Linked DNA regions of Homo sapiens. The protein of the gene in region 1 purifies or fractionates together with the protein of each later gene. This does not show direct contact. Each region holds a gene or a part of one and is shown in the gene's direction. Other genes may lie near its edges.

Region 1 (6,489 bases):
TTTGCCAGGTGTCCCAGTAAGATTCTGGGTTTTTTTGAGACAGACTCTTGCTCTGTGGCCCATGCTGGAGTGCCGTGCTGTGATCTCGGCTTACTGCAACCTCCGCCTCCCAGGTTCAAGTGATTCTCCTGCCTCAGCCTCCCGAGTAGCTGGGATTACAGGGGCACACCACCATACCTGGCTAATTTTTGTGTTTTTATTAGAGATGGGGTTTCACCATGTTGGCCAGGCTGGTCTCAAACTCCTGACCTCAAGTGATCTGCCTGCCTCGCCCTCTCCTTTGTACTGGGAGTACAGGCATGAGCCACCAGGTCTGGCCCAATAAGATTTTTTATATCATTTTTTTTTTCATGGTCCAGGGTCCAACCCAGGGTCCCACATTGCATTTAATTGTCTCACCTTCTTAGTCTTCTTTCAACTGAAACAGTTCCTCAGCCATTCTTTTTCCTGACCTTGACATTATTTTATTTTATTTTATTTTATTTTATTTTATTTTATTTTATTTTATTTTTCGAGATGGTGACTCCCTCTGTCACTGAGGCTGGAGTGCAGTGGTGCAATCTCGGCTCACTGCAACCTCCGCCTCCCGGGTTCAAGTGATTCTCCTGCCTCAGCCTCCCGAGTAGCTGGGACTACAGGCACATGCCACCACACCCGGCTAATTTTTTGTATTTTTAGTAGAGACGGGGTTTCACCATGTTAGCCAGGATGGTCTCGATCTCCTGACCTCGTGATCCACCCGCCTCAGCCTCCCAAAGTGCTGGGATTACAGGCGTGAGCCACTGCACCCGGCTGACCTTGACATTTTTAAAGAATATAGGCTAGTCGTCTTGAGGACTGCCTTCAGTTTGGATAGGCCTGACGTTTCCTCTGATTGCATTCAGGTTGTGTTCTTTGGGCAGGAATCTCGTGGCAGAGGTGTTGGGTCCTTCTCAGTACCTCTTATCAGGAGGCTATGATGTCAGTTTGTTTAATTACTGGTGATATTAACTTTGATTACTGGATTAAGGTGGTGTTCCCAGGTTTCTCCGGTATAAAACTGCTGCTCTTTCTTATCTAGGAAGTAACAAACTTTTCTGAATGTTGGCTGAGCTGTGCTGATGAAGCCAAGACCCCTCCCATGCAGTGAGTGGGCCGTGTTCACTCACTGTGCATGGAGTCAAGTGGTTTTGGAGAACATGGAACTAGATTCCAAGATTGGAGGAAAAAAGTCTTTTGGGGGTTCCACTTTGCAGTCAACTCACATTCAGAGGCATGACAACCCTCTCCAGAGAGTTATTCTTGCCACTGTGTTTACAGAGGTGTTTGTTCGTATTTTCTGCCAGTCATGGAACCTAAAAGGTTATATCATACTGCCTTATGTTCCTAGAAGGTCTAGTTTACCATCCTAAACACACCTTGTGAATCCCCTTTGTTATATTTTTATTGGACCTTAAAAAATTAAAGTGGAAGAGCTAAAAAAGTGAGACAATGAACAAATGCCTTGAGTGCCAGCCCTGGTACTCTTGTCTGTTTGCATTTCTTTGGGAAAGGTTGTTTAAACTCTTAGGACTTTGGTTTTCTTCTGTAAAATATGGTTAATAGCAATTTCCTACGTACCTCACTGGATTACTGTGGCAATCAAATAGACCCTTGTTAAATAGATGAGAAGGTACTTCAGAATAAACCTCCATACAAGCACAGTGAGTTCCCCTAATTAATTCATATTTCTTAAATCAGCCAAAATACCTATTTCCAGGAAATTGAAAAATAGCTTGCCAGACTTTCTTTGGCTTTCAGCAATGTGAGCAGGGCTGGCCAGAGAGCCGTGCAGTCTGACATACCAGCCTTGTGGTTTAGTTTCTTCCGGATACCTGTGCTTAGCACTTTTGCAGGGCAGCTGACAGGGTACAAAGTCCATGTAAGCAAGTGGCAAAGCAGGATGAGCAGGAAACTTGACAGATTGTAGATAACATTGGGAACTTCTTTTTTTTAATTCTGTATTTTGTTCACTCACTGTAAAAAAAAAAAAAATCTATGACTTGCCCACACTTTTCTAATTTGAAGGTCATGTTTGTGTGTGCATACAAGTGTGTGTGTTTTCTAACTTACTCTGTTTATTGGGCAGGGGCTGGGGTCGGGGACTGTAAACAGACTTCTTAATGAGCTTTATCCCAAAGAATCCACCCTTACTTCTCAGGTAGAAGTTATTTTTAAATGTGTGCTCATGGGTAATTGGTCCAGTTTTATTTAGAATGGAACCTCGCAGTCTGTGGCGTGAACTGAACCTACATGTGACCATTCTCTTAAAACAAGCAAGGCTGTTCAGGGCTATGCCAACTTGAGGCTGTCAGAACCTCCCCCACCTAGGCCACCCTGGCCTTTTCTCCCTAGGATTAGGATCTTGTCCTGCATTTCCATTTACTTAGATGGGTCTGACATAGCCAACAGGCTCCTGCCACACTGACTGAGTGTGTGAGCCATTTAAGCAGACACAGAGGTTGTGCTGGAACTCAGATGCTGGCTATGGCTGCTGAGGCTGCAGCCAGTTCAGGCCTCCCACCCACTCCCCCCAGTCCAGCCCTGGAGACCCTTGTGGTCGGAGTCATGTCTGCAGGAAGGCTTCTTGTCTGCCTACCCATTCATGGGCAGAAGTGCCAGCACACTTCAGGGACCCCCGAAGCAGAGCCCAACTCTTTCTATACTGCTTAGAGAAGCCCAGAGTGTGGGCTCGCAGGCCAGTTCCAGGGAGAGAACAAGAACAGGCAGGGTTGTGCACACCCAGCAGCTTTGCTCATTCTCACCAATCAGAGAAATCGTACCTCATTCCACGGGGAGGAGGGTGAGGGCAAGCAAGAAGATCAGGTGAGATTTGCCAGGCCTTCCAATGCCAGAAAGTCCTCCTCAACAGGTCAAGGTAGGAATGCTTATGGGATGAGAAAGTGTTTCCATCTGTTATCATCTACCACGAGATAGTCTTTCCTACAGCCTCTATCGCCAAGTTTCAAATCCACTCCCTGCCCTTGTACTGTTGTTGGATCAAAGGACACATATCATTCACGTGACAATCCAGTGGAGAGATAATGTGCTTTGATCTTGGCAAGGCACTAGACCAAGTCTTTTGAGACACCCTCGTGGTGGTTGGGTGGCGGGTATACAGCTCTACTGTGGGCGCCACTCACCTTAGATAACAGCGTGAAAGGAAGACGTGGCCAAGCAAAAGACCACCAGCTGTATCTTTATACATATTAACTGAGACTAAATGCAGGCTCAGCTAATGTGTACAGTTAGTACACATTGTGTAACTCATTGGAAAACCATGCTCAATGGAGCACTGTCAGTGTGAGCAAGCAGGACATGGGCTCCCCTGTTATTACAGTTCATCTTCCTGGTTTTGGTTCATTCTTGTCTGTGAGGATTATTTGGATTTTTAGTTTATCATCTAATTGATCAACACCAATACCTAACAGCTATTGAGTGCCTACTCTATGCCAGTTCTATAAAGAACATCTTGGGGTCTTGGTGACCCCAAACTCAGACTTAGCTGCGCTGGCAACACAGGAAGTAGAGCAGAGCTGTAAGAAGGCTCTGTGGCTTAGTTCACTGTGGGAAGCCATTTCACCTCTCTAAGCCTAGTTTTCTCATCTGTAAAGAGGCCATGATAATAGTACCTGTGTCATACCATTTACACACATATGTACACAAATATGTGTCTGTAGACATTTAGCAGCCTAGTGGCTGGTGTGTAGACAGCACTCAGTAAACATGGACACAACTGCAGAGAGTGTGAATGGAGGTCTGAGCTCCAAATGGCCAGGGTAAGGACCTGGTCTGACTGTGTCAGAACACATGAGGACTCAACGTGCTGAATCGTAGAGGCACTCACACATTACCTCTCAAGCCAAGGCTCTCAGGAGCCTCAAGGTCACCATGGGGATTGGACACTACCCCTCCAAGCAGAACAGCTCCACTCTTACCTACTGGGTACAGACAGAGTGTGTGTGCATCTGTCTCTGTCTCTGTCTGTCTCTGTCTCTCTCTCTCTCTCTCTCTCTCTCTCTCTCTCCCCCCGCCTTCTCTCTCCCTCTCTCCCTCTCTTTCTCTCTCCCTCTCTCCCTCTCTTTCTCTCTCCCTCTCTCCCTCCCCGCCCTACCCCATGTCTCAGGGATTCTCAGTTGAGGGAGATCTTGTCCCTAAGGGGACGTTTAGCAATGTCTGAAGGCATTTTTGGTTGTCATAACCTGCGTGGGGAGCGGACTGCTGCTGGCATCTAGTGAATGGAGGCCAGGGATGCTGCTAAACATCCCACAGTGCCCAGGACAACCCCACAACAAAGCACTATCCAGCCCCAAATGTCAGTGATGCCAGGTTGAGGAAGCCTGCTCTGCGGGCGTATATGTATGGCGGGGCAGGGGGATTCTCTGCATGGCTTTTATTTGGTAAAAGTCTAGGAAAAAATAGAAGATCAGCGTTATATAGTGTACCTGGAAAAAACCACCTGATTGCTAAGCACTCTGAAAAACCACATCCCTTAGGAGAACCCGAGTGTGGGGCCTGAGCCCAAGGCCAGAGGGGAGAATAGTCTGCAGAGAGTCGAAGCACCATCCACAAAGACAAGGTGTCTTGGGAGTTCTGAGTTGCTCCAGGCCTAATGGCATGAGGACACAGGGAAGCCACTTGGCCAATATGAAAGTCCACATGCCACTTGAGGATTCTTTTCTCCTTCAAGACCAAGTTTAATATTGATCTGATCATATTTCCCCTTATTAGCAGGATCTGATTTGGTAACTCTAAGCCTCTGGTGAAAAATCGTCTTTGAATATCAGGGTGATTTGCCATTTTTATTGCTGTTTTTATAGATCAAAAAAGTCAGATATTAGCAATTCATGGTTCAACCTGCTGAGGATTGAGGGTGATGACTTGTAATTTCTGTATACATTACTTTATATCCTTCCTAGAGGAACTCTGTACAAATGCCCACATCCCTGTTCAAACCTCTAGGGAAACTGGGCATCTCAAGCTAAGCTGTTACCCCTGTCCTGAACAAGCAGCACTCACCAGGAGCCCAGCCTAGGCTGGCGTACCTGTAACGGACCCTTTCCCAGCAGACATAAGACGAGCTCCTGTGTTTTAACCAAGTGGCTTGTCCTCACCTTTTGCATCTGCCCAGTTGGGAGAAGAGAGATTCTTTTAAACCTGAGACCCTCCAAAAAACACCCCCCATCCCCATCTCTTGGCTGTGTTCCTTGGCATTTAAAAAGAAATGGGGAACCTTGAAGACTTGCTAAGTAAAATAAGCCAGACATAAAAGGACAAATACTGTGTCATTCCATTTATACGAGTCACCTGGAAGAGGCACATTCACAGAGACAGGAAGTAGAAGGGTGATTGCCAGGGGCTGAGGGGAGGGGAATGGAGAGTTGAACGCCACTGAACTGTACACTTAAAAATGGTTAAAATGGTAAATTTGGTGTTATATATGTTTTGTCACAATTTTTTTAAAAGGAGCCAGCATGTTCATTGCCATATGCTGAAACCAGATTCAACCCTGATGTTCACCTAAAAAGAGGGAGTAGGGAAGTGCCTAATACTCCATCTTTACATTGTCATGAAACCTAAGTGAGATTAGGACATGGCATCATCAGCTGGGCTTCTTAAAATGTTTCCCTTTCCACCAGGGCCGTCTTAGAGAGACCGTATATTCCTGTTGGGCTGAGAGCACTTTAGTGACTTTTGAGTGTGTGCTAAGCCCTATTTTCCTTCCTCTGGAAGGATGAAATTGTTCAGCTTGTTGGAACTAGGTGTCTTAGGAACAGAGAGCTCTGTGTTCAGGCCCAGTAATCATCCTCTGGCATATTTTTTGTTTTCCAGGACAGCTACTAAAGCTTATCCACAGTCTCCAAAGACAACGAAACCTCCCTACCCAGGGTCTCCTGTGAAGTACCGCTTACCTGCCCTTTCTGGCCAAGACATGCCCAAGAGGAAAGCGGAGAAAGAGAAGAGCAACAAGGAAAGGGAAGGTACCTTGGCTCAGCAGGCTGCTGGCCCGCAAGGAGAGGAAGCCCTAGAGAAGCATGTAGTGGACAAGCATGCCAGCGAGAAGCATGCTGCTGCCGCAGGAGGGAAAGCCGAAAACAGCGCAGGTAGATGCTGCCACCGTGCCTTGGCTTTCCCAAGACGGTTCTCCTCAGACCCAATCCACGTGCCATTCTCTCATGTTTTGGGGAGGGAAAGGGATTTTTCTCTGGGGACAAGTGCATCCCCTCGTGCAGCTTTCTTGGGTTTGCACGTTGCTCCTGAGTTCTTTCCTTCAGTCTTCTGAGGGTCCCCTGGAGGAAATCTAGAGGCTGACTCCACTCATGGCTGTGGAAGCTCACGGGGATGCTGAGTAAAACAGGCCTGCATCTGCACCTCACGCAAAAGAAGATCTTCCTTTAGACTTTCAGGCTTCTATGATGCAGTGAGTTCACCCAGATGGTGGCTGCTGTGGCACTTGCTAGTGACCTTGTC
Region 2 (6,489 bases), on another chromosome or scaffold:
TGAGAAGAGGGTTATGCTGTGGGAGGCTGCATATGAAATTCCAGATAGTACTAAAGATACTTAGTACCATCTTCTTAGAGTTGGCTTCACATGAAACTTATCCTTTTGTTGGCATTTCACAGGAGGCAGCACCTTTACTTATTTTAAAGAGAATAAAGAAAATCTCTTTACAGAGGGGTTTGATGTCAAAAAGTACTTTGGTGTCTTGGGAGAAGGCCTTTGGAAATAAGTTTTAAAAATCTATAAATAAATTTTCTCATCCCAGGCACTTTGGGAGGCCGAGGCGTGCGGATCACGAGGTCAGGAGATCGAGACCATCCTGGCTAACATGGTGAAACCCCGTCTCTACTAAAAATACAAAAAAAATTAGCCGGGCGTGGTGGCGGGCGCCTGTAGTCCCAGCTACTCGGGAGGCTGAGGCAGGAGAATGGCGTGAACCCGGGATGCGGAGCTTGCAGTGAGCCGAGATCGCGCCACTGCACTCCAGTCTGGGCAAAAGAGCGAGACTCCGTCTCAAAAAAAAAAAAAAAAGAAAAATCTATAAATAAATTTTCTCTACTCTATTTTTTGGAAAAACAAAGATAGGTAAGTAGATAGATAAGTGCATAGACAGATGTGGTGATTACTACATAACAAACCCCAATGGATGTGGTTGTGGAGAGGCTGACTGAACAGATTTTACAGGTAACCCCTGGTAGCTACAGTGGAGGTGAAGTGGTTTTCAAACACTGTCCCTGTCTATTGGTTTTCACTGATACTTGGTAACATGAGAAAAATAAGAAGAAGATAGTGTTTGTGTAGCAGAAGTTTTTTGATTTATAAGAACTTTTTTTCTGACTTTTTAAAGACAGGATCTCACTGTGTTGCCTAGGATGGGGGGCAGTGGCAAAATCCTAGCTCAGTGCAGCCTCAAATTCCTGGCCTCAAGAGATCCTCCTGCCTCAGCCTCCCAAGTAGCTAGGGGTCCAGGTGTATGCCACCATGCCCAGCTAATTTTTTGTAGAGATGGGGTCTCGCCATGTTGCCCAGGCTGGTCTCGAACTTCTAGTCTCAAGCGATCCTCCACCTTGGCCTGCAAAATGTTTGGATTACTGGTGTGAGCCACCATATCAAGCCTGTTTTCTGATTTATACAGAACTGTTACATGGTTCTTTCTAGTTTTTGGTGTTAAAATCTCCTTGCTTTTTCACCATGATAGTAAAAGTAGATAGTTTTGTTTCTTTTTTTTTTTCTTGAACATCCATACCTGGCAAAATGTATAATTGGTAATTCTATATAAGTTACACCCCCCCCTAGTTTTTTTGGACATATTACTGGTCCACGAAACCTGAATGTCTAGGTGCCATTGGTATCGTGGGAACAACATCGGCTCTGAAAGCAGACAGAACTGAGATTGAAGACCAGCTCTGCCACTTACCAAGGCCAAACAGCAGTTCAGCTTTTCTGGACCTTAGTTTCATTATCTGTAATGTAGGAATAATCATACTTTGCCAGGTTATTGTACAAGTTGAAGAAAATCTTTTTTCTTCACAGGACTAGCCCCCCATAATGGTGGGTGTTGAATAAAAGGTGGTTACCAACACCCCTGGGGAAGTTACTTAACCTCTTTGTGCCTCATTTGTGGAATGGGATGCTAGAAGTCCACCTGGCGTAAAGGATTGTTGTGTAAGGATGAGATTATATGCATACAGGGTGCTTCACATATACTAAGTCCTCCTTGAGGATTAGCTGCTATTGATTATTTTATCATTATTGTAAAGATTTCAGCTACCATTGAGAATTTACAGGTCATCCTTTCTTTGTGGAGTTTTTAATCATGCATGATGGTTATGTCAAAACTCACAAACAATGATGGTATTAAAATAGTACTTGCAAAATGTGATCAGTGCTTTGAGGAAGGTAAGGACTTGGCCTGGTACATCATAAATATTTATTAGAGTTTGTTGACTTAAAAAAAGAAAGCCAGAAAAGTCTTTTGACCTCTAGAACCTTAAACTGTTCCCTTGCAGTTCTTCTTTTTTGGCATGGAGAATTAATTATCTGCAAACTTCTTCCTTCGCCAGAGCAGCTCTTTCACAAAATAAGGCTTACCTAAATTCTATTTTTTTTTGAGACGGAGTTTCACTCTTGTTGCCCAGTCTGGAGCACAATGGTGCGATCTCAGCTCACTGCAACCACCGCCTCACAGGTTCAAGCGATTCTCCTACCCCAGCCTCCCAAGTACCTGGGATTACAGGTGTGCACCACTACACCTGGCTAATTTTTGTGTTTTTGGTAGAGATGGGGTTTTGCCATGTTGGCCAGGCTGGTCTCAAACTCCTGACCTCAGGTGATTCACCCACCTCAACATCCCAAAGTGCTGGGATTACAGGTGTGAGCGACTGTGCCCAGCCTAAATTCTTAAGCCTTCTACCAAATATAAGAGAAAATCCAGGAGCTGGAGTGGGATTGGGTGACCTGTGGATCCAGTTGCATATTTACCCCGCTCCATCTGTGGTTCAAATGCTCACCAGGCTACAGCAGAGAAGCTGGACTTATGCATGCTGGTAGTAGGTATCAGTAATATGAAATCAGGATCCAGTTTTATTTTTATTTTTATTTATTTATTTTTTGAGATGGAGTCTCGCTGTGTCACCCAGGCTCGAGTGCAGTGGCACGATCTTGGCTCACTGCAAGCTCCACCTCCCGGGTTCACGCCATTCTCCTGCCTTAGCCTCCCGAGTAGCTGGGACTACAGGGGATCCAGTTTTATTTACAACCTTACATATCCATGAATTGGCTATAATTACATGTACAATCAGCATAGCCAAGGACAAAGTACTATGATAGTTAGCTCTTCTCTTCCTTTTCTTTATCTGTCTGTTCTCTTATCTTCTTCCTTGGCTATTCACCAGGTTGGTGGAAGAGGAGGTTCCCCAGCACTGGCCACTGACTGTGTGCTGTACTACTTTTTTTTTTTTTTGAGATGGAGTCTCACTTTGTTGCCCAGGCTGGAGTGCAGTGGCACGATCTTGGCTCACTGCAACCTCTGCCTCCCGGGTTCCAGCGATTCTCCTGCCTCAGCCTCCTGAGTAGCTGGGACTACAGGCGTGTGCCACCACACCCAGCTAATTTTTGTATTTTTTTAGTACAGATGGGGTTTCACCGTGTTGTCCAGGCTGGTCTCGAACTCCTGACCTCATGATCCGCCTGCCTCAGCCTTCCAAAGTGCTGGGATTACAGGCTTGAGCCACCGCGCTTGGCCTGTGTGTCCTACTTTCTACTTGTCCTTAGCATCACTCAGGCACACTGTTTCCCCACTACCCTACTTTACCCAACTGCTACGCACCTGTCCACATACATGCTGTATAGATTGTTTCCTGGATGATCCTTTGACCTCTTACTAATAACAACCCTTACATAGCAAGGGTGCTATGCAGATGGTTCATTAATCAATTTATTCTCATTCCATCTCCCTCCTCCCCATCTCCTTATGCTCTGTTCTCTCCGTAGATTAAAATATAAAACAAAGAGGCAGCATGTTCCTAATTGGATTGTTTTCCAGATTTACAGAGTCTCTGGGAATATTCTGAATTCGTACTCCCAGTATTGTTTTTATCAGGATTCTAAGAAGTGGCAAAGTTAAGTCAGCATCTCAAGGTGGAGAAGTCTGCAGAATGTTTGGTGGAAAAGCCATGAGCTAGGGTTGAAAGAGCTGTCACCTAGCATGGCTGTTAACCCAGGCAAGTGACTTAGCCATGCTCACCCTTAATTTCTGGTCAGCAAAACAAGAGAACTGGGATCTTTAAGGCCTCTTCTAGCATCAACTGTGTGGGTTTCTGTTCTTTGGTTACTCATCTACAAAACATAGTCATCAAGTTTTACTGTTTCTGAAACTGATGTTCTTTGTTAGCTCCTTCTTGACGTAAGTTTAAATCTGTAACTAGTATCTGCTGATTTTAAAATGTACCTTTATTGTTTTTATTACAAAAAATATTATACTTTCTACTGATACATTTCTCATTAGTTATTACCAATGACTCCTCTTTCTCTTCCTTATTCTATCCTGTCTCATCTCATTCTTTATAGTTAAGTGTTAATGGTTGGTAGCTAGTATCTCAGACTTTTCTAGGCTTGAAATATATGCATATGTAAACATAAAATTCCTTTGACTATAAAGGGATTATATTATACATATGGTTCTGAAGCTTGTGTTTTTATTAATTAGCAGATGATAGAGACAAACATTAGGAAACAATATTCAGTGAAACATCAGTCTCTCTTATACCCTTAATCCTCAGTTGTCCTTCCTTAGAGGCAATGTTTATATATCAGAAATTTTCTGTGTGTATATACACACATATATAGTTAGGATTTTTTTTTAACAAAGTGGGAGCACACTACTCACTGTTTAGCTCCTTGCTGCTGCTGTTTTTTTCCCCTCCTTTGGTTTAATGTTATATTTTGTAGATTATTCCATGTCAAATAATTCATGTAAACACTTAGTAAGTGCTCAAAAATGTTAATTATCATTATCAGCCCCCTAAACAGCTTTCCTATTCTTTTTTTAAGGCTGCAAAACATTCCATTGTTTACATACACTAGTTACTTATTGATATTTCCAATGTGGCTATTATAAATAATGGTTCAGTGGACATCCTTGCTTCTAAGTCCTTGTAGGACTGTATCTGAGGAAGAAATGTCTGTTGAAAGACTGTACCTTTTATATTTTGTTAGGTATTTAGAAGGCAGTCTAGCAGTTGGTTGAACCTGTTTGCATTCCTATCAAGAATGTATGAGGTGGCCGGGTATGGTGGCTCATGCCTGTAATCCCAGCACTTTGGGAGGCCGAGGTGGGTGGATCACTTGAGGTCAGGAGTTCGAGACCAGCCTGGACAACATGGTGAAACCCCATCTCTACTGAAAACACAAAAATTAGCTGGGCATGGTGGCATGTGCATGTAATCCCAGCTACTTGGGAGGCTGAGGCAGGAGAATTGCTTAAACTCTGGAGCTGGAGGTTGCAGTGAGCCAAGATCATGCCACTGCACTCCAGGCTGGGCGACAGAGGGAGACACTGTCTCAAAAAATAATAATAATAATAAAGAAAGAATGTATAAGGTCAGGTGAAGTGGCTCATGCTTGTAATCCCAGCACTTTGGGAGGCAGGAGGGTCACTTTAGATTAGGAGTTTGAGACCAGCCTGGCCAACATGGTGAAATCCTGTCTCTCAAAAAAACCCACAAAAATTAGCTGGGTGTGGTGGTGGACACCTGTAATCCCTGCTACTTGGGGAGCTGAGAGGAGAATTGCTTGAACCCAGGTAGTGGAGGTTGCAGTGAGCCAAGGTTGCAACACTGCATTTCAGCCTGGGATGATAGAGCAAGACTCCATCTTAACAAAACAAAACAAAAAAAAAAAAAAGAAAAGAAAAGAAAAGGAAAGAATGTATGAGAGTGTCTGGTTCCTTGTCCCTTTCCAAAACTGTCTTCTCAGTTTCCTAATCTGATAGGTGGAAGTGGTATCTTGTTTTAGTGTGTATTTCTTTTCTTTTCTTTTCTTTTTTCTTTTTTTTTTTTGAGACGGAGTCTTGCTCTGTCACCCAGGCTGGAGTGCAGTGGCACAGTCTCGGCTCACTGCAACCTCCGCCTCCCGGGTTCAAGTGATTCTCCTGCCTCAGCCTCCTGCGTAGCTGCGATTGTGCGCCACCATGCCCAGCTAATTTTTGTGTTTTTAGTAGAGATGGGGTTTCACCATATTGGTCAGGCTGGTCTCGAACTCCTGACCTCGTGATCCACCTGCCTTGACCTGCTGGGATTACAGGCGTAAGCCACCACACCTGGCCAGATATATTTTAAAAGTGTTTGTTAGCTTTCTCCACTCATTCATTTTATGGCAGAAGTTGTTTCCAAACATATCCTTTACTGTGTTTCTTTTTTCTTTTTTTTTTTTTTTTTTTTGAGACAGAGTCTCGCTCTTTCACCAGGCTGGAGCGCAGTGGCGCGATCTCGGCTCACTGCAACCTCCGCCTCCCGGGTTCAAGCGATTTTCCTGCCTCAGCCTCCCGAGTAGCTGGGACTACAGGCGCACGCCACCACGCCTGGCTAGTTTTTATATTTTTAGTAGAGACGGGGTTTTACCGTGTTTGCCAGGATGGTTTCCATCTCTTGACCTTGTGATCCGCCCACTTCAGCCTCCCAGAGTGCTGGGATTACAGGCGTTGAGCCACCGCGTCCAGCCCTTCTGTGTTTCTTAACATACCACACACATAGACACAGTTCAGCCTAAAAACAAACAAACAAAAACTTGTGTCTGGGCGCACTGGCTCACACCTGTAATCCCAGCACTTTGGGAGGCTGAGGTGAACGGATCATGAGGTCAAGAGATCGAGACCATCCTGGCCAACATGGTGAAAACCTGTCTCTACCAAAAATACAAAAAATTAGCTGCGCGTGGTGGCACGTGCCTGTAGTCCCAGCTACTCAGGAGGCTGAGGCAGGAGAATCGCTT
Region 3 (5,874 bases), about 130 Mb from region 1:
TGGAAGGACAGTGGTTAGAAATGAGGTTTCATCTGGTTTTAACAGAACCCAACATACTGGAAGTGCTTTTTGTAAGGGTCTGTCATTGGACCCCAGGTGTATATTTCTATCAACTAAATGTATACTGTTTCTCGTACTTGTTGTAGCAGAGTTGTAGTCTTTAGGAAGTTTTCAAGGCATGATGTAAGACCTAGCTGTCTGGTCAGCTATTAAATAGTTTTGTTTTCCCCTCATGAGGAATAGTCAGCATTTTCAGTTGATGAAAAAATCATTGTTCCTTAACCATAGTATATGTTCTTTTAAAACAAAAGATGGCCCAAACTCAATGCTTTGTAAATTAAGATATTAACTGGCAAATCTATTTTAATCAAGATTATTTACAATGTGTGATTTTTAAGGTTAGCTGGTTATACCTTGAATGTCATTTATCTATATTCATACATTTTAGCATGTTTTATTTAATATCCTATCATGAAGAAGTCCCCAAAATAGCATATCTGTGCCTTAGCAGTAGAATAATTGGATAATAGTGCCAAATTAGACAACTTTAAATTTTATTCAGTATAATTTTACTGCTGAGTGTTTTTGTTATATCTCTAATTCTTGACATCAATAATCTGTTATCTGTAGTAATTTTCTTTTTAAGGAGATCATTCAATTTCCTGATAATTCTGTGTAACAGTGTTTACTGTAAATTTAGAACTGAAATTGAAATATTCCAGTATATTTTTATCTGATGAAAAGGAGAAAGGTTTTATTAAGTAAAATGTCAAATTATTTTTACTGTTATCTTGTATATTTTAAATAGGAAGTAGACCAGTTGCGTTTGGAGAGATTACAAATTGATGAGCAGTTGCGACAGATTGGAGCTAGTTCTAGACCACCACCAAATCGTACAGATAAGGAAAAAAGCTATGTGACTGATGATGGTCAAGGAATGGGTCGAGGTAGTAGACCTTACAGAAATAGGGGGCACGGCAGACGCGGTCCTGGATATACTTCAGGTACAAACTAAGCATTTTACTCAGTAACTTTATCTGTTCCTAGACTTATAGCTGCTAATCTCTAATATTCATTAGAACCCCATTATAACAATTTGCCGCTACATGGTTTCCAATTCACAGTGGGTTAAATTGTGTTACAGGAGACATAGAGTAAAAACCTGATGATAAACACGTAGAGTTCACAGGGCCGGTGCAAGTTCTGTTCATGCTCTGATTGGGGGTAAATCTGCAAAGCCCTTGTGTGTTGATGATTTTCTTAAGGCCTCTCCTGATTTTATAACTGTATAGTCAAAACTTTTTTCATTTGTGTACTGTGGCTCATTTTTATTTTGTCAGGTATGTGCTGGTCATACTTGCTGGATGGACTGTGTAAATCAGGGGTCTGCCTCTTGTGGCTCATAAGGTGATTTTGAGTGACATGGCCAAAGTCAGCCCTAGGCACAGTCAAGAAGTAGGCGAAGTTTCTCTTTGCCTTCCCAGCTTTTCTGTCCGTGCTTCTTTCTTCTCTCCCAGTACCTTTCAGTGAACCTGATCCCCACCTGCCAGTGCCTACTGTCTTTCTTGCTCAACAGTGTATCTCCTTTGTAACTTGCTAATGATGGTATAAGGTATAATCCATTTCACGCATATTTGCATTTCAAAAAGGAACTCTTTAAGATGGAAAAGCCTTCAAGATCCACAGGAATGAAGCTATAATGGTGAAGCTATAATTGGTCATTAGCTCCAACAGAGGAAGAGAGAGGTAGTAGAGCTGATATTCTGGAGTTGGGGAGAGTTACCTACTCCTAAGGCCAACCTTGAACCTAACCCCTAACCCCTCTCCCAACAGTCTGTTCTTTTTACTCATGAATTTCTGCCTCACCGTGGAGCTCTTTTTCTCCGCTCCTGTCCTCTAAGTCGTTAACCCCTTCAGGCATAATGAATTTATTATAGTAATTCTTTATTAATGATCAATTATTGTAATGGGAGTGGGAGGGCAGGTTGTGGACCAAACATCAGGCAAGCATGTATCTGCCTTCAGCTAGATCCAATCCATGACCCACAAGAGACCCTTCCCTGAAGCAGTTGCCATGGTGGCCTCCTTTGCCACCCTCTCAGAAATGACCAAAATATATACATTCCCCTCTGTCCTGGGCCAAATCTTGCTAAAAGGAGCTCTCTTTTTAGAGGTTTTGTTTATCAGGGTATCACACTTAACTGTCGTGGATAATCTTTTCCTCCAGAGAGTATAGATGTTTAAAGGAACACAGCTATTTAATGATATGGCACATCAAGGTTTGAACTTAGGTGGCTAATAACATACCTTTTTAAAAATGAGAATGAAACATGTTTATAACCAAAATTAACCTCAAATATTGCAAAGCCCTTCATTTTGAGTTTAAAATTTTGTTTTATGAAATGGAAAGTGATAATACTCTTTGTGGGCTTATAAATTGGGAAGAGTTTTGGATTACCCCTGAAACGTCTCTGGAAGCTTCTGTTAACCCTCTTTTTTTTTTTTTTAAAGTCAGACAATGGTATATAACTTTTAACTCTCGATAGGAACTAATTCTGAAGCATCAAATGCTTCTGAAACAGAATCTGACCACAGAGACGAACTCAGTGATTGGTCATTAGCTCCAACAGAGGAAGAGAGGGAGAGCTTCCTGCGCAGAGGAGACGGACGGCGGCGTGGAGGGGGAGGAAGAGGACAAGGAGGAAGAGGACGTGGAGGAGGCTTCAAAGGTATGGAGATCTTCATTAAGAAATCAAAGTGAATTGTAACAGCTGTCTTGAAGTTCCATGAGAAATCCTATTGATGCAATGAACTGTTACCAAGATCCCATCTCTCCCGTTTTGTGCTGATACCATAGGAAAGGATCAGCCTTCCACTTGTGTAGAAAGAAAGAATATTAGGCAGCCTTCCTTATGGTTCATACAGATATATGAATAAATGCTGATAACTAATTCAGCATCTTGGTGGGTCTAAACAGCATCCCTTCATTAACTCACATTGACCTGTAGATGCAGAATTATAATAACTGTGAAATATTTTCTGTTACTTAGCAGCAGGCTAGATTATTAGCCATTGTGTAACTGGAATCACTGGGGTATTGATTACATTTCAGATTCTGTGGTTGGTTTAAATAGAGGGTGTGGGAATAAAGAACTTCCAGTAAGCATTTCAGAATCAGTAACTGTTGAACCTTTTGAAAATATTCTCATAGGAAACGACGATCACTCCCGAACAGATAATCGTCCACGTAATCCAAGAGAGGCTAAAGGAAGAACAACAGATGGATCCCTTCAGGTAAAACCTGTCTGCCTCTTTTCATCTTAATTGTTTGAATATGGTAGTTTGAGATTTATGAGTTTATTTTACTTTATTAAAAACATGTTCAAAGATTACAAATCCAGTTTATGTGAAATATTTTACCTTCAACATTACAATTGTAGTCAATCTTAGTTCTTTGTGACAAGTATACAAATAAGAGGATTTCTCTAGAGAATATGCAGTCTGAGTATTTGTGAAGACCTTGACAGCCACACTATGATTTTATTATTTATTATTTATTTTTATTTTTTTGAGACGGGAGTTTCGCTTTTGTTGCCCAGGCTGGAGTGCAATGGCGCAATCTCGGCTCAGAGCAACCTCTGCCTCCCGGGTTCAAGTGATTCTCCTGCCTCAGCCTCCTGAGTAGCTGGAATTACAGGCATCCACTACCATGCCCAGCTAATTTTTGTATTTTTAGTAGAGACGGGGTTTCACCATGTTGGTCAGGCTGGTCTTGAACTCCCAACCTCAGGTGATCTGCCCACCTTGGCCTCCCAGTGTGCTGGGATTACAGGCGTGAGCACTGTGCCCAGCCACACTATGATTTTAATACCACATTGGTAGACCTGCAATCCCCCAGAGAAGGAACATCCTGGGATGTACTTAGAGACCTCAGTAAACCTTATGTGTCTTTGCTCCCCCAAATTAACAGGGATAGGGTATTCTCTTTGAATAGAAAATAAGGAAAAGAAGGTGTCTGTCTTACAACTAATAATCATGATAGACAGAGCTGATGATATTCAGCTAGTCTCCATGCTTGGTCAGTCATCTGCTTATTTACAGCCAGGACCTAGTCCGAGGATCTCTTCTCAATTGGCTGTCACCAGTGCTAAACCAATTGTTAAATAATTTTAAAATTATCTCCTGAGCACATCCAGGCACCTTTGCTAAGTGCTTTGTGTATGTTTTATCTCATTTAATCTTACAGCAACCCACTGAGGTAGTTTTATTATTCCACTTTATAGGTGAGTGCACTGTAGCTTCAGTCCTTTGCCCACAGTCACATAGCTAGCATATGTCCAAATGATAGTCAAACCTTAGTGTCTGATTCTCTGAATCTATGTTGTCGTCTACTTTTTCTGTAACTTTTAATTATTAAGTAGTTAGGGTTCCTTCCTGACTATGGATTCATTTGGGACCATCACCCAAGATTAGTGAGAGATACTTTTTAAGACAAAGTTTATGATGGAATATTTCTTGGAATTCATAGCAGCTCAAAGTAAGTGTTAACTATTGGTGGGTTCTTAAGGACCAGCATGTCCAAGGGATAGATAGATTGGTAAATTACTGTATGTACCTGTCTTTTACAAAGCTATAAGATATTTAAGTACCCGTTTTGTAATTTTCCACTTAAACTGATATGTTTGATGAACTTGGCAGTCTAACTGCATTGGTTAAAAGGATGCACATTTATATTTCTAAATGAAATGGAATACTGAATTTAAAAGGTGATGTTTTCTCTATTAAGTATGAAAATAGATACAAATCTGGCCAGGCGCGGTGCTCACGCCTGTAGTCCCAGCGCTTTGGGAGGCCAAGGTGGTCAGATCACCTGAGGTCAGGAGTTCGAGACCAGCCTGGCTAACATGGTGAAACCCCATTTCTACTAAAAATACAAAAAATTAGCCAGACGTGTTGGCGGGCACCTGTAATCTCAGCTACTCGGGAGGCTGAGGCAGGAGAATCGCTTGAACCCAGGTGGCAGAGGTTGCAGTGAGCCAAGATCTTGCCATTGCACTCCAGCCTGAGCAACAAGAGCAAAACACCATCTCAAAAAAAAAAAAAAAGGGCCAGGCACGGTGGCGCACGCCTGTAATCCCAGCACTTTGGGAGGCCAAGGCGGGTGGATCACAAGGTCAGGAGATCGAGACCATCCTGGCTAACATGGTGAAACCCCATCTCTACTAAAAATACAAAAAATTAGCCGGGCATGGTGGCGGGCACCTATAGTCCCAGCTACTCAGGAGGCTGAGGCAGGAGGATGGCGTGAACCTGGGAGGCGGAGCTTGCAGTGAGCCAAGATCGCGCCACTGCACTCCAGCCTGGGCGACAGAGCGAGACTGTCTGGGAAAAAAAAAAAAAAAGATACAAATCAAAGTACTGAATCCTTGGTAACGAGACATTTAAAACACATGCACATACCCACTACTTAAACATACTTTGAAATTACAACCATTTGGGGATGTTTTTAGCATTTGTGCTTGAAGTAGATCAATATTTGTAGTTGTTTTAGTTCCATTTGTCACTGTTAACTTTCATTTGTACCTCTGGAATTAGCAGTGCTGTATTCAGCATTGGCACTTAAAATATTTTATAGCTCTTAGAACACTATTTTTTAAATTACATTGATCTTTATACTCTCCTAGGATTCCAGTCCTTCCACAAATTATTATATGCAGTTTTCTTTATACTGTTCCATTCTTCAGACAGAGTTCAGGTTGTAGGATCATCTGAATTTTCTTAGTGAAATACAAGCCAGTAGAAACCAAAGCTCGTGTTTTTCTACTGTATGACTATGGGAGCTCTCAGTATAGAGAAACTTGATCATACCTGTGA
Region 4 (6,489 bases), on another chromosome or scaffold:
TAGTATTCAGGTTTTTATCTGGCCTTATCCTCTATTACTCTTTGAACCCTACAGTCTGTACTAATTATTTCTAAAATTGTGTTACTCATCTACAATATCTCATATCTTTATAGTCACTAAATGAATGTCTGCTGGATAAATGAGGGAAAATTACTTTCTTTTTGCATAGAAAAAACTATTAGTATGGTTTGTTTTTGGGTGGCGATTGTTATTTTGATTGTACTTAACGTTTGTTTTCAGAATTGTTCACCATGAATATATCTTGTGTCAGCAGTAAAATAATAGATTTCTTTTAGTCACACCTGTAGAATTGAATGTTAATTGTTTCAGTAGCATCTGAGAAAAGGATACGTTCACATATGTCACAACTAAAGAATAATCAGACATCGATGCCTATTTTAAATTGATGCCAAAGTGAGATCAGCTTCTTGTATCTGTCAGTAATGCTTTCAGCTTTAGAGGAAAAACCAACAGCTAATAGTGGCTTAAATAAATAAGAGGATGTTTTTCTCACATAACAAAAAGCCTGGATATAGGCCCTTCACGGTTCCTCACTCTGTTATACTTTGTCGTCCTTAGCTGTTGCTTTTCATCATCCTGTTTGTCGTATTTGCAAGATGGATGCTACAGCTCCAGGCATTCATTCCAGGAAGGAGAAAGGGCAGTTTTAGCTGAGATGGTCCTTTTTATCAGGATAACAACACCCTTCTCAGAGACCTCGAACAGACCGCCACTTCATATTATTCAGAGCTTGGTCATGTGACTACTAGTTGCAGGGAGACTAGGCTAACAGGTATTTGGCTTTCCGGCCTATTTATTGGGAGGTAGCAAGGGAAAGGGGAATTGGGAATGGCTTTAGGAGTGTCTGGTTCATTGTTACTTTTATTTCAGACTTTGAAGTGGGGATGTGGAGGGTAGTAGGTCTTTTTCAGCTAAGACTTAGGAAGTGTTTTCTAATGTTAAGGGCTTTTTCTGGGGTCATGATTGTTTTGTGTTTTAGGGCCCAACTTCCTTCCTTTCCTTTAGGAGAAACTAGAGAGCAGGCAGATACTTGCAAATACCTAGAACCCCTTGCCTCTTATTTTTGGATACCTACTCTTTCTCCTAGATTATTAAAATTGTTCCTGCAAGCATTTAAACTACCTCAGGTCTTACAAGTCTTAAAAAAAAAATAACTTTCTTAGACATACAGCAGATTTTCTGCACCACTTGGTTACCTCCCATTCTTTTTCAATCCATTCCAATCTGACCTTTGTCATTGAGTACTTTTTAGTTTTGTCTTGGCCTCACAACTGTATTTGACATAATCACTCCCTCCTTGAAAATTATTATTTTTTGACTTGCATGGACACCACTGATTTTTTTTTTTTGTTCAATACCCCTGGCTCCTTCTCAGACTATATTAGTGGTTCTCTGAGAGTGGTCCATGGAGTCCCCAGTATCATTTCTGGGGTCCAGAAGATCAAAGCTGTTTTCAGAATAAGATGATGTCTTTTTAACCGTTTTGATATTTGCATTTGATCCTTGCTCCTTGTACTTCAACTTAACAACTTCCATTGGTTTCTTGAATGCTACACTGTTCTTTCTGCCTTAGGATCTTTAAGTATCCTCCCAGTGCCTAGACTACTTTCCTACACGAAACCTTTTTCACCCTTCATGACTAATACTGGGGAGAGTGATGATGAGTTAGTTGCTGCGTATTTTTCAGTTCTTAAATATTCTTTCTCCAAGGGTGTTTCCGTGATATTCTGCTTTCCCGTAGACTTAGGTTCTCCTCCTATATTCTCTCATTGCACTTTCATAGCACTCAATTGCATGAGTCAGAATTCTGGTCACTTAATTTTTTAATGTCTGCCCCACTATTATTTATGCTCCACTAAAGCAGAGAGGGAATCTCTTGGTTATCATTCTAGCATGTCATCTCACATTCCATAAGTATTTGTTAAATGAAAGAATGGTTGAAAAGCTGTTGCAGGACAGGCATGGTGGTTCACACCTGTAATCCGAGCACTTGGGGAGGCTGAGGCAGGAGGATCTCTTGAGCCCAGAAGTTCAAGACAAGCCTGGGCAACATAGCATGGTGGCACATGCCTCTAGTCCCAGCTGCTCAGGAGGCTAAGGTGGGAGGATTTCTTGAGCCCAGGAGGTTGAGGCTGCAGTAAGCAGTGATTGTGCCACTGCACTCCAGCCTGGGTGACAGAACCGAGACCCTGTCTCAAAAATAAATAAATAGGTATTTAAAAAAATAAAAATCACTCAGCAATATTTGGCTGCCATAGTAGTGCTAATTATAATTACTGGGAATTATAATTGTAATTACTGGGCCCTGGGAATGCAGCAAAGACTAAAGACCATTCTTGTTTTCCTGGAGTTTATTCTAATGGATTTGTGCATGGTGATCCCTTCTACTTCAAAGATTCAATGATACCAAATTATGCATACTAGGTATACTATTTTGAGGATTAAATATATTATATGATGGCATCTGTAAAGGTTAGAAATGTTCATTTACCTTTAATTTGTATAGTTGAAACACTTTTTTGTTTTTCAGTCCAAGCCTTATGCATTTGATCGGGTGTTCCAGTCAAGCACATCTCAAGAGCAAGTGTATAATGACTGTGCAAAGAAGATTGTTAAAGGTAAATATATTCAACCTGCTGAGTTGTCTCAGCAATAAGTAAATAAGTTTGTGATCTTTTCTACTTACTCAGCTTCCTTTTTTCATTTTAATGCCCCTTTCTTCTAAGTTAATTGCAGAAGAAAGTTGTTTAAATAATAAAAAGGTCAAACACAATTAGTAAATATTCTATTGCTCAAATTCCATGATCTAATTATATACAGTACCTAATTAAGGTTATTATGAGAACTATGTTACACACTTATTCTTAAGAGATGCATTTCTGTTAGATATTCCCAGGAGAGTTTCCAAGGTGGCAGTTCTAGAAAGAGAACAGTATGAGAATGAAAACAAAAGGGCTAGACACATTTCTAAAAAGTAGTGGAAAATGGCAGTCTATCATTCTTCCATTCCATTGTTATTCCTTCCCCAAAGACTTACCTATCCCTTGAGGAATTTAACAAGGGTTGCCAAGGGTGAGAAAAGTATGTACATTCCAGTTAATACTATAACTTATACAAGAATATTTATAACTTTATATATTCTAAAACCATTGAATTTTAAAGCTGAGAGAGTGCTCATTGTTTATCTGGAGTTACTTCCAGTTACTGTAGAAATCTGTTTAATCAAAGGAATGGCTGTTACTTTGTGATATGATTTATTTCATTTTTTGACAGCTGTAGTTGTTACAAAGTGCTTCTTAGATTGAGGCAAAATCTGTGTTGTGGCATTCACCACATTAAAAGAATTGGGATTCAGTATAAAAATAGGTGGATTAGGATAGCATAGGAGCACAGATGCTCATCCTAGTAACAGGAGATAAAGTGGAGTTATAGAAGGTTTATAGATGAGGTGAGGGAGGGAAAATGTGTATGTACTCATTATATCAATTTCATATTGTCTAATACAGGGAGCAAAGTCATCATGGAGATGAGGAAGGGGGAAGAGGTTCTAGGAAAAGGCATGAAATGGATGGATTCAGGCAGTGTGAGAGTATTGCCAGGCAGTATTAAGGGCCCACTCAAGGTTAGCTGCTGAAAGAGTTGAATTTTTGCCCATTTGGAGTTTTGCTAGGTGAGTACAAAAGAGGGAAGTGGGGGACAAGAGAATTGAGGATATAGTCAAAGGAGTGATTATAATGGTGGACCATGGGATCTAAGGTGGTTAAGTTACAGGAAGAAGGATATGAGGGAGGCTGAAGGGCAGTGAAAAAAGGTGGTAACATTAGTGGGTTGTAGATCTCAGTGGGGTCAAAGATTTGTTGGAATCAGGGTACTGGACGGAGTAATAGAAGGTGAATACAGACAGTCCCTGACTTAGAACAACTTAAAATTGTTCGACTTTACGATGGTGCAAAAGCAATACACATTCAATAGAAATATTCAATAGAAATATTTCTAGTACCTGTACAACCATTCTGTTTTTCACTTTCAGTATAGTATTCAATAAATCATATGAAATATTTAACACTTTATTATAAAATAGGCTTTGTGTTAGATGGTTTTGCTGAACTGTAGATCAGTGTACGTGTTCTGAGCACATTTAAAGTAGGCTAGGCTAAGCCATGGTGTTTGGTAGGTTAGATGTGTTTGATGCATTTTCAGCTTAGGGTATTTTCAACTTACAGAACATTTATCAGGAAGTAACCCCATCGTAAGTTGATTAGTATCTCTACTTGAAATTGAGATTATGGAAGCAATGCAGTTAGTAATGAAAAGGTAAAGGTGTTGTCATGGAGTTGACTTCCGAGGTAGTAAAGAAAGGATAAGGCCAGACATGGTGGGTCACACCTGTAATTCCAGCACTTTGGGAGGCTGAGGTGGGAGGATTGCTTGAGGCCAGGAGTTTGAGACCAGCCTGGGCAACAGCGAGACCCCATCTCTGTTTTTAAAATAAAAATGAAGAAAGAATAAGATCGCAGAAAATTTGGTCAAGGAGCTGAGAGGCCAGGTTATTTTAGTGGGATTATCTGCTACAGACTTTGAAACCACCAGTACTGTTTTATTACAACAGTAATGGTATTGGTGAGAGAGAGTGAACTGGGTACTGACATCTTCATAAAATGAAGGGGAATTAACACTTGTAATTGTGTAAATGACTGCAACAAAGAGGAACAGGGTCATCATGTTGTAAGCATCATGTGGTTTTCCAGAGGGATCGATCATAGAACACAATTTTACTACATTCTTTGATTGAGACATACTTCTGTCTCATCAGTACAGTTTAAGATTACATTAGCTTTCTAACCAATAGAAAGTTACCGATTCATGAATTCATGGGCAATTTGAATATACAGGTCTTTTTTGTATCTCTTGCCGCCAGCTTTAAGCCCCATTCCATACTTGCACTTTGGAGAGCAAACCTTTAAAGTGCAGATTCCATTTTGTTCATTTTAGCTCTTAATCATATTTTGAGTTTTATACTGGGGATCTAGTAAGTTGGCTGTCAGCACATTTGATAAGTCTATTAAAGTGTCAAAGGTTTTGAAGTTTGAAAAATATGATTCTAAACCATTTATAAAGTGCTTAATGGGTCATGGTCCCTAGGTTAATCTTCTAAAATGAATAAGATTGTTGGCAGTTATTTCAATCACACTGTTTGGGTATTCAGCCAACTTCAGAGCCTCTTACCTATACGATTGGCTAGTCCTTAGTTTGTCAACATACTCACAAGAAAATGATGAAAAACTTGAATCCTTTTATCAAGTGATGGTGCATGACTCTAGTATTTGCCCAAAGTACCAGTTGAATAACCATATCCAAACAGGAAATGAGGTTAGTTCAACCATAGTCTTTACTTAATAAAATTTTGGTATACTTATTTCCATAATCTATCCCTTTTCCCATTTTGAAAATGTAAATAACATTAGTGTCTTCTATTACCTTTGTTCTCTTTGGCTTTTAAAAGTAACCTACAGTAGCTGTGAGATTTTTATCCCTGGAACGTAATCCTCCTTAGTAACTAGAAACTTGGGCTCATTTGAAGCCATTCTTTTGCTATCGTACTATCCACATAAACCTTAAAGTCCCTTTCAACAATGTTTATTCTGTTGTTCTGTTTTGAGGATCATATTTGTGGAAGATGGTAGTAAATAGAAGTACCTCTGTTTTAATATCATCAGTTAATATTTTCTGGTCTTTCCTAAGCAATGCAGGTTCATTCATTCATTATTTTTTTTCTGAATATGACTTTAAAAGTTCTTTTTAGGGCCTTAGTTTTTATTTTGTTTTGGTCTTAAAGTTACTTATCCTGGACTTTTATCTTTCTCATGCTGTTCTCGTGAGTTCTGTCTCTTCTCTTGTATATCCTTAGTTACACAGTCTCTTAATAATAGGCTGATACTCAGAGTTTTTCAAAATCTATTGTTTTTTAAGTGGTACCTAACCTTAAGGAAAAGAAAAAGATGAAGTCTGTTTTCCTGACGTTTAGGATACATGCATCTATTACTTTTGTTCTGTTTTATTACTATTTGCAGTTCTAAGATGAAATCGTTTGCTTCCTGAAATTTCTCTTCTTTTCTCAAAATTTCAGTCCCTTCTTCATCCTGCTTTACTGTTTGGAACTGCGTTCAGGATAATAGTTCCCTTCTCTGTAATATGGTAAGAGTATAATCTTTAGAATCAGACAGTCCTAGATTGAATTCTAGGCTCTGCCACTTTCTTGCTGTGTGACTTTTGGCAAGTTACCTAACCTTTCCAAGCCTCCATTTCTTCTTGTGCAAAATAGGTACTAGGAGTTGTTAAGCACAATACAGGTATCAGCTGCTAATTGTGTCCTCTGTCGTTGTCTTCTTTTTTTTTTTTTAAATTGAGACGGAGTTTCGCTCTTGTTGTCCAGGCTGGACTGCAGTGGCGCCATCTTGGCTCACTGTA
Region 5 (6,489 bases), on another chromosome or scaffold:
TGATTCTCCTGCCTCAGCCTCCCGAGTAGCTGAGATTACAGGCATGCACCACCATGCCCGGCTAATTTTTTTGTATTTTTAGTAGAGACGGGCTTTCTCCATGTTGGTCAGGCTAGTCTCGAACTCCCGACCTCAAGTGATCCACCTGCTTCGGCCTCCCAAAGTGTTGGGATTACAGGCTTGAGCCACCGCGCCCGGCAGTACAAGCTTTTTCTTTTTTGTTTTCATTTACCCTCCTCCCCTCAAAAAAAATGTCTAGAAGGTTGAAGTTCTTAGAAAGTTACCCAACTCATTTGGATCTGTTCTTAAAGGTGTTTTGGAATCACAGTATATAGTATTTTAGTTTTCAAAGTTCAAATCAACATGCCTAGGATCTTAGGGTTTCCCCATTGCCTAATAATTGAGTTCTAATTTAGCATGTATATATCTAACATATAGGACATAGGTATTTAGGTATCAGGGTGCTTAGCTTTGTGGAGAAGATAAAAATAGTATTACAGGTATAGGCCTCAGTTTAGTTGGGGAACTAAATATGAAACATATCAATATATCAAATAACATAGAATTATACTAACTTGTGTGATATACAAACAATAAGTTTTGCTAAGGTTCATAGAAATTTAGAGCTGTTTAGGATCTTGACCTCTAATCCAGTGGATCTCAAGCCTTGGAATTATCTAGGGAGCTTTCTTGTAAGACTTTAACAGGCCAAGGTCTTGGCCTTTTTATACCTGGGCAATTATGACTCAGTGTATTGTATGGGACTGGTACATATGCTAGGGTATTTTTTTTTTTTTTTTTTTTTAATGAACTGATACTTAGCATTAAGATTCAAGTGGGATCTGGCAGTTAATATTTTCCAGAGTGAAATGCAGTCAGAAAAGTGAGGTAGGAAAAAAAGTGTCAATGTTAAGAGACTTTTACACTGCTGGGAATGGAGGTACTTAAAAGTGCTTGCTGCCTCTCCATAAGGATTCAAGGTCAGTACTCTTTTTCCAGAAAACCCTACCCTTATTAAGCTAATTACAGGTATTTATGTCTAAATTGAGAATTAGAGATGGATAGAGCTGATTTTTAGAAAAACAAACTTTTCGAAGCTCCTGAGTTATGTGTGTGTTTTCAGACTTCAGTGCCTAGCAGCAAGTCATCTGGTGACCTTGTTGATCTGTTTGATGGCACCAGCCAGTCAACAGGTAAGCTTCTACATTGGCCTTTTCTTTTGGTTTGAGAGTCATTTTTTAAAATGCCAAATAAAAGATAGATTGAAAAATAAGATTACTTATTTGCATTGGGTTCATTTTTTATATGAAATTAGTGAGTCTTGAGCATTATTTGGAATCATTGTGTTATTTTTGCTTATCTTTTTATATGTACACCCATTTCTCTATCCCTATTTTATACCTTTTTCTGACCCACCCTCAGACTAGCAAAACTTTGTTTGTGGTCAGTACTTATTGGTGGTTAATAATAGTATCCTCAAATCATTATCATACTTAGATTTTAATGACTCCTCATACCTGATGTACTGTGTCTTCCCTAATTAATAATAAATAGTATTTCAAGGCATCATGTACTTTCTGAAATTTTTCATCATAGATTTTGGAATCTATAGTTTCCATTTTTAATTTTTAAGATTAACTTGGAGAAACAAAAAATTGCATTTAAACTGTTGCCTTTACTTTCTTTATAAGCAAAAGGTACTGCTCTGCGCATTTTACTGTCTTTCCCTAAATTTTAATTGCAGCTGTCACCTTGGGCATGCCTAGAGATCATTTAACTTTTTATTCTTTTAATTGAACAAATATTTGTTGAACCAGACACTGATCTGGGTGCTTGTAAAAAACAGAGTTGTTGTCCTCATGCGAAGGTCAAGTGGAGAAAATAATCATTAATCAGAGTCACAAATAGTTATCTAGTGATAAACAATGGCAAGTGCTTCAGTCAGAGGAATGACATTCTCTGAAAGTATGTAACTACCAAACATATTTAAAGAGGGCGGCTGGGCGTGGTGGCTGACCCCTGTAATCCCAGCACTTTGGGAGGCCGAGGGAGGTGGATCACCTGAGATCAGGAGTTCGAGACCAGCCTGGCCAACATGGTGATACCCTGTCTCTACTGAAAATACAAAAATTAGCCGGGTATGGTGGCAGGTACCTGTAATCCCAGCTACTCGGGAGGCTGAGGCAGGAGAATCACTTGAACCCGGGAGGCGGAGGTTGCAGTGAACGGAGATTGCGCCATTGCACTCCAGCCTGGGCAACAACAGTGAAAAACTCCATCTCGGAAAAAAAAAAAAAAAAGAGAGGGCTACAGCAAAAGAACTGTTTACCTTGAATTTCTCATAGATGAGATTGATGATTTCTTCAGTTTGATTTCCAGTATGTGCTAGATTTTGAGTAATTTCTGATCAATTGTTTTCAAGAAAATTGATATTTTTAGGGTTGTATTTGATGATTATGGAGTTTTAATAAACTATTGTGTGACGTGTCAAAATAGTTTAACAAATACATCTTCTGTTTAAAGACAGTCTTTCCAAGCCTAAGTTCATTTCACATTAAAATGTAGACAGTAAGATGGGGGTATGACTAATGTGCAAAGTAAATTTATTATTCCCAGTTGTGTGTAATGATTTTTCAAAGCCGAATTGTGGCTGTGCACAGTGGCTCACACCTGTAATCCCAGCACTTTGGGAGGCCGAGGCAGGCGGATCACCTGAGGTCAGGAGTTCAAGACCAGCATGGCCAACATGGTGAAACCCTGTCTCTACTAAAACTACAAAAATTAGTTTGGCGTGGTGATGGGCACCTTTAATCCCCGCTACTCAGGAGACTAAGGCAGGAGAATCGCTTGAACCCAGGAGGTGGAGTTTGCAATGAGCTGAGATCATGCCACTACACTCCAGCTGGAGTGACAGAGCAAGACTCTTGTCTCAAAAAAAAAAAAACTTTAACTTAACCTTTAAGTGTAAGTCTATGCTGGAAATTACTTTTCACTGATAGTTTAGTATAATTAATGTAATATAAAGCCCCCTATTATTTCCTCCTCCTTACCTACTATGTTAAAATTCTTGGATTAGGCATGAACTTTATTCAAGCAATTCTCTTGCCTAAGCTTCTCGAGTAGCTGGGATTACAGTCACCTGCCACCATGCCTGGCTAATTTTTGTATATTTAGTAGAGACGGAGTTTCACTGTGTTGGCCAGGCTGGTCTCGAACTCCTGACCTCAGGTGATCTGCCTGCCTCAGCCTCCCGAAGTGCTGGGATTACAGGTGTGAGCCACTGCACCCAGCCCAGACATCTGGTTTGACCTACTTTCTTTCTCTATTTTTTTTTTTGAGACAGAGTTTCGCCCTTGTTGCCCAGGCTGGAGTGCAGTACACAGTCTTGACTCACTGCAACCTCTGCCTCCCGGGTTCAAGCGATTCTCCTGCCTCAGTCTCCTGAGTAGCTGGAATTTCAGGCATGCGCCACCACGCCCGGCTGATTTTTGTATTTTTAGTAGAGACAGGGTTTCTCCATGTTGGCCAGCTTGGTCTCAAACTCCTGACCTCAGGTGATCCACCTGTTTTGGCCTCCCAAAGTGCTGGGATTACAGGCGTGAGCCACCATGCCTGGCCAGCCTACTTTCTGAAATTCTTCAATTCCCTTTCCCGTTTTTCTGTAACTGCAAACTGTTCCTAAAATTATTCATTAAACTTGATTGGACTGTAATGCCCAAGGTTACGGACAGCTACATTAGTTGTGTAACAATTTATGTGATATATTTTTATATGTTTAAGATTTGAACTGTAGAATTAACTGGTAGTTAGCATGTAGTCATATAATACAGATATAGTGTCACAGAATATCAACTATTTTGGACTTCCTGGCATGAAATATTTAAAGGGCCCCTTTCATGCATCTGTGAAAAGTTTTAATGGAGCAATCAGAGAAGAATTAACTAGGAAGGTCAGATGGGTGGATGTAACTTTTCCTCTGTGACATCAAGATTGCTTTGAACAGAGAGATTTATTAAATACCAACATGCTTCCTTTACTTGGCAAGGAACCTTTGAGTGGTTTGTCTTCTCCAGTGCAAACAGTAGTTTGACTAATTAAATAGAAGTAGCAATTGATATTAATATAGTAACTGAGAAAGTTTGAATGAAATCTAGGAGGTTTCTTGCCTTAAATTTTATTTTATCTTAATAAAAAGCAACTAATAGAGATTGATATTAGAAGAATTTTTTAAAATTAAAGTTATCTCCTATTTGAAACCGTATGTTTAACCAGTTTGTGCAGCTCCCTCTTCAATCAGTACATAAATTTAGTTACTCCCAATCTCTATTTAAATATTTTAATAATATATTTTAAATTGAATTCAGCAGTGAAAGGAAATTGGGCATTAAATCTTTAGCACTTACACGAGAAGGTATAAGAATCTACCATATTAACATTGCTATTTGGTATGTCATTTGGGTGTCATTTACCAGATGTGCCCATATTTATAATAGTACCATCATGCAAGTAATGTGGGCACAAACTGTAAAGCTAAGCAGATATGGCATCTGTACCACTCACCAGCTAAATATATCCTCTGAGAAAATGTTCAGATTTTTGTGTGTGTGTGATTACATGTTCTTAGCATTCTCAAAAGTATATATGGTAAAATCATTGTAGAATATCTTACCAAGTTTAAAAATATATATGTAAAACCTAACTATCAGGATTTACTTGAGACTATCTCATATCTTAATAAAATGTCCCCTTGTGGTGATATTCTTTTAAAACCTGTACTCACATGGTGTTTCAGTTGCTTTTACATAAAGTACATTTCTAAGTAAACATTTTAAGAAATGAAAAATAATTTAAAGTACAGTCATGGACTGCATAGTATGTGACCATGGTCCCATATACAATACTATATTTCTACCGTACCTTTCTTATGTTTAGATATACAAACACTTTCTATTGTGTTACAGTTGCCTACAGTATCCAGTATAGTGACATGATGTACAGATTTGAAGTCAAGGAGTAATAGGCTATACCTTATAGCCTAGGTATGTAGTAGGCTAACTAGGTTTGTGTAAGTACCCTCTATGATGTTTGCACAATGACAAAATTGCCTAATGCCCCAATGCATTCTGTCATTGAGAAATGTGTGACTATATTTAGAAAATAAGCCAATTAGAAATAGAATGCCAAAAACTGTCCCATTTCTTTTTTTAGTTTATCTCACCTCTTTAAAAAGAAGTCCAACTTGTCTCTTTTGTCCCTTTGTAATTAAGAAATTTAGGTCTTGATTAACATACTGTTAAACTAGATATTTCTAGTACAATAAATAAGGTTGAGAAAATTCAGCATAATCAATACAGATAGAACTTAAATGACTTGCAATATATTTTGAATGTTTTTAAGTTAAAAAGAAACATTTAAAAGGATTAAGGTATATCAAATCCGAAATGTGTATTACATTTACATTTGAACCTGCTGCTTTGTACCCAGTAATCGCTAGTTAGTTGAAGACATTTACATGAACATGTAAATACTCACCTTGTTCCATTCTTAGTACACTAACTTATCATTTGGGTAGGGGTTGTCTCCAGTTTTAAACTAAGTTTACTGAAAATAAAATTTTTTCAGTATATTCTCTTTTTCACTGATTATTAAAAGTAATGCACATTCAATTTGGTGGAAAACAAGTGATTTACCATAATTTAGACACATAAAGTATTAATCTGGTGAATATCTTTTTAAAATACATTTTCTACATATTCCATTAATGTAGTTATTTAAGCATTTATTATGTGGCAGATCTTTTTCAGGCTTTTAGATATGACTTTTCATTTGTTTGGGTTTTTCTGGGTTTTAGTCATTTATTTATATATTTTGATAAACTGCTTTTCACCTAAGATCTCATGACCATTTTCTTATGATAGTTGGTATTCTTTTATAGTACTTTTCATTGCTTTATAATCTTACATTGGGTGGCTATATTATAATTTAGCCAGTTAATCCCTTGTTTTCTAGACATTAGTTTTTTTATTTTTCCAAAATTTTGTAGTACAATAGCACCTTTTAAAGCTTTTTCAGTTTGGTAAAGAGAAAATAATATTTCATTTTATTTTGCATTGATGATTGAGTTTGAACACTTCATATTTTTATAGGCCAGTTGTTACTATCTATTCATGTTCTTTATTTATTAGGAGTATTCATCCTTATTGATATTCTAAAACTTGTGTATTATAGATAATAATTCTTTGTCATGTATTTACATTTTTTTTGCACTTTGCCATTGCTTTAATGTTGTGTAAATTCTTCATGCAAAAGTTTGTCTTAATGTAATCTAGATTAAATTTTTTTGTCAAAGAAAATTTCCATTTGTCGTTTAAGTACTGTCTAGTTTACCTGTATTTTCTTGTTCACAATATTGCTTTGGGAAATACATGTTCCCAGCTGGTGACTAAATAACCTCCCTGCTGCCCTGGAAAGGCAGATGGAAGTGGTTCA

Evidence for each region.
Region 2: the proteins of MAP7D2 (region 1) and STX8 purify together in Homo sapiens (affinity purification with mass spectrometry; 2 studies listed by BioGRID and IntAct, with this or other methods). This does not show direct contact.
Region 3: the proteins of MAP7D2 (region 1) and FMR1 purify together in Homo sapiens (pull-down; one large-scale study listed by IntAct). This does not show direct contact.
Region 4: the proteins of MAP7D2 (region 1) and KIF5B purify together in Homo sapiens (affinity purification with mass spectrometry; 2 studies listed by BioGRID and IntAct, with this or other methods). This does not show direct contact.
Region 5: the proteins of MAP7D2 (region 1) and CLINT1 purify together in Homo sapiens (affinity purification with mass spectrometry; 2 studies listed by BioGRID and IntAct, with this or other methods). This does not show direct contact.

Annotation. Positions count from the first base shown.
Region 1 is NC_000023.11:20,025,314-20,031,802, reverse strand, and holds part of MAP7D2 (MAP7 domain-containing protein 2), read left to right. Parts: intron 1-5,850; coding exon 5,851-6,122; intron 6,123-6,489. UniProt on the Homo sapiens protein: Microtubule-stabilizing protein that plays a role in the control of cell motility and neurite outgrowth via direct binding to the microtubule. Acts as a critical cofactor for kinesin transport.
Region 2 is NC_000017.11:9,546,697-9,553,185, reverse strand, and holds part of STX8 (syntaxin-8), read left to right. Parts: intron 1-6,489. UniProt on the Homo sapiens protein: Vesicle trafficking protein that functions in the early secretory pathway, possibly by mediating retrograde transport from cis-Golgi membranes to the ER.
Region 3 is NC_000023.11:147,942,323-147,948,196, forward strand, and holds part of FMR1 (fragile X messenger ribonucleoprotein 1), read left to right. Parts: intron 1-808; coding exon 809-1,004; intron 1,005-2,546; coding exon 2,547-2,729; intron 2,730-3,211; coding exon 3,212-3,294; intron 3,295-5,874.
Region 4 is NC_000010.11:32,044,614-32,051,102, reverse strand, and holds part of KIF5B (kinesin-1 heavy chain), read left to right. Parts: intron 1-579; exon of another isoform or gene 580-793; intron 794-2,551; coding exon 2,552-2,639; intron 2,640-6,489. UniProt on the Homo sapiens protein: Microtubule-dependent motor required for normal distribution of mitochondria and lysosomes. Can induce formation of neurite-like membrane protrusions in non-neuronal cells in a ZFYVE27-dependent manner.
Region 5 is NC_000005.10:157,798,354-157,804,842, reverse strand, and holds part of CLINT1 (clathrin interactor 1), read left to right. Parts: intron 1-1,123; coding exon 1,124-1,193; intron 1,194-6,489. UniProt on the Homo sapiens protein: Binds to membranes enriched in phosphatidylinositol 4,5-bisphosphate (PtdIns(4,5)P2). May have a role in transport via clathrin-coated vesicles from the trans-Golgi network to endosomes. Stimulates clathrin assembly.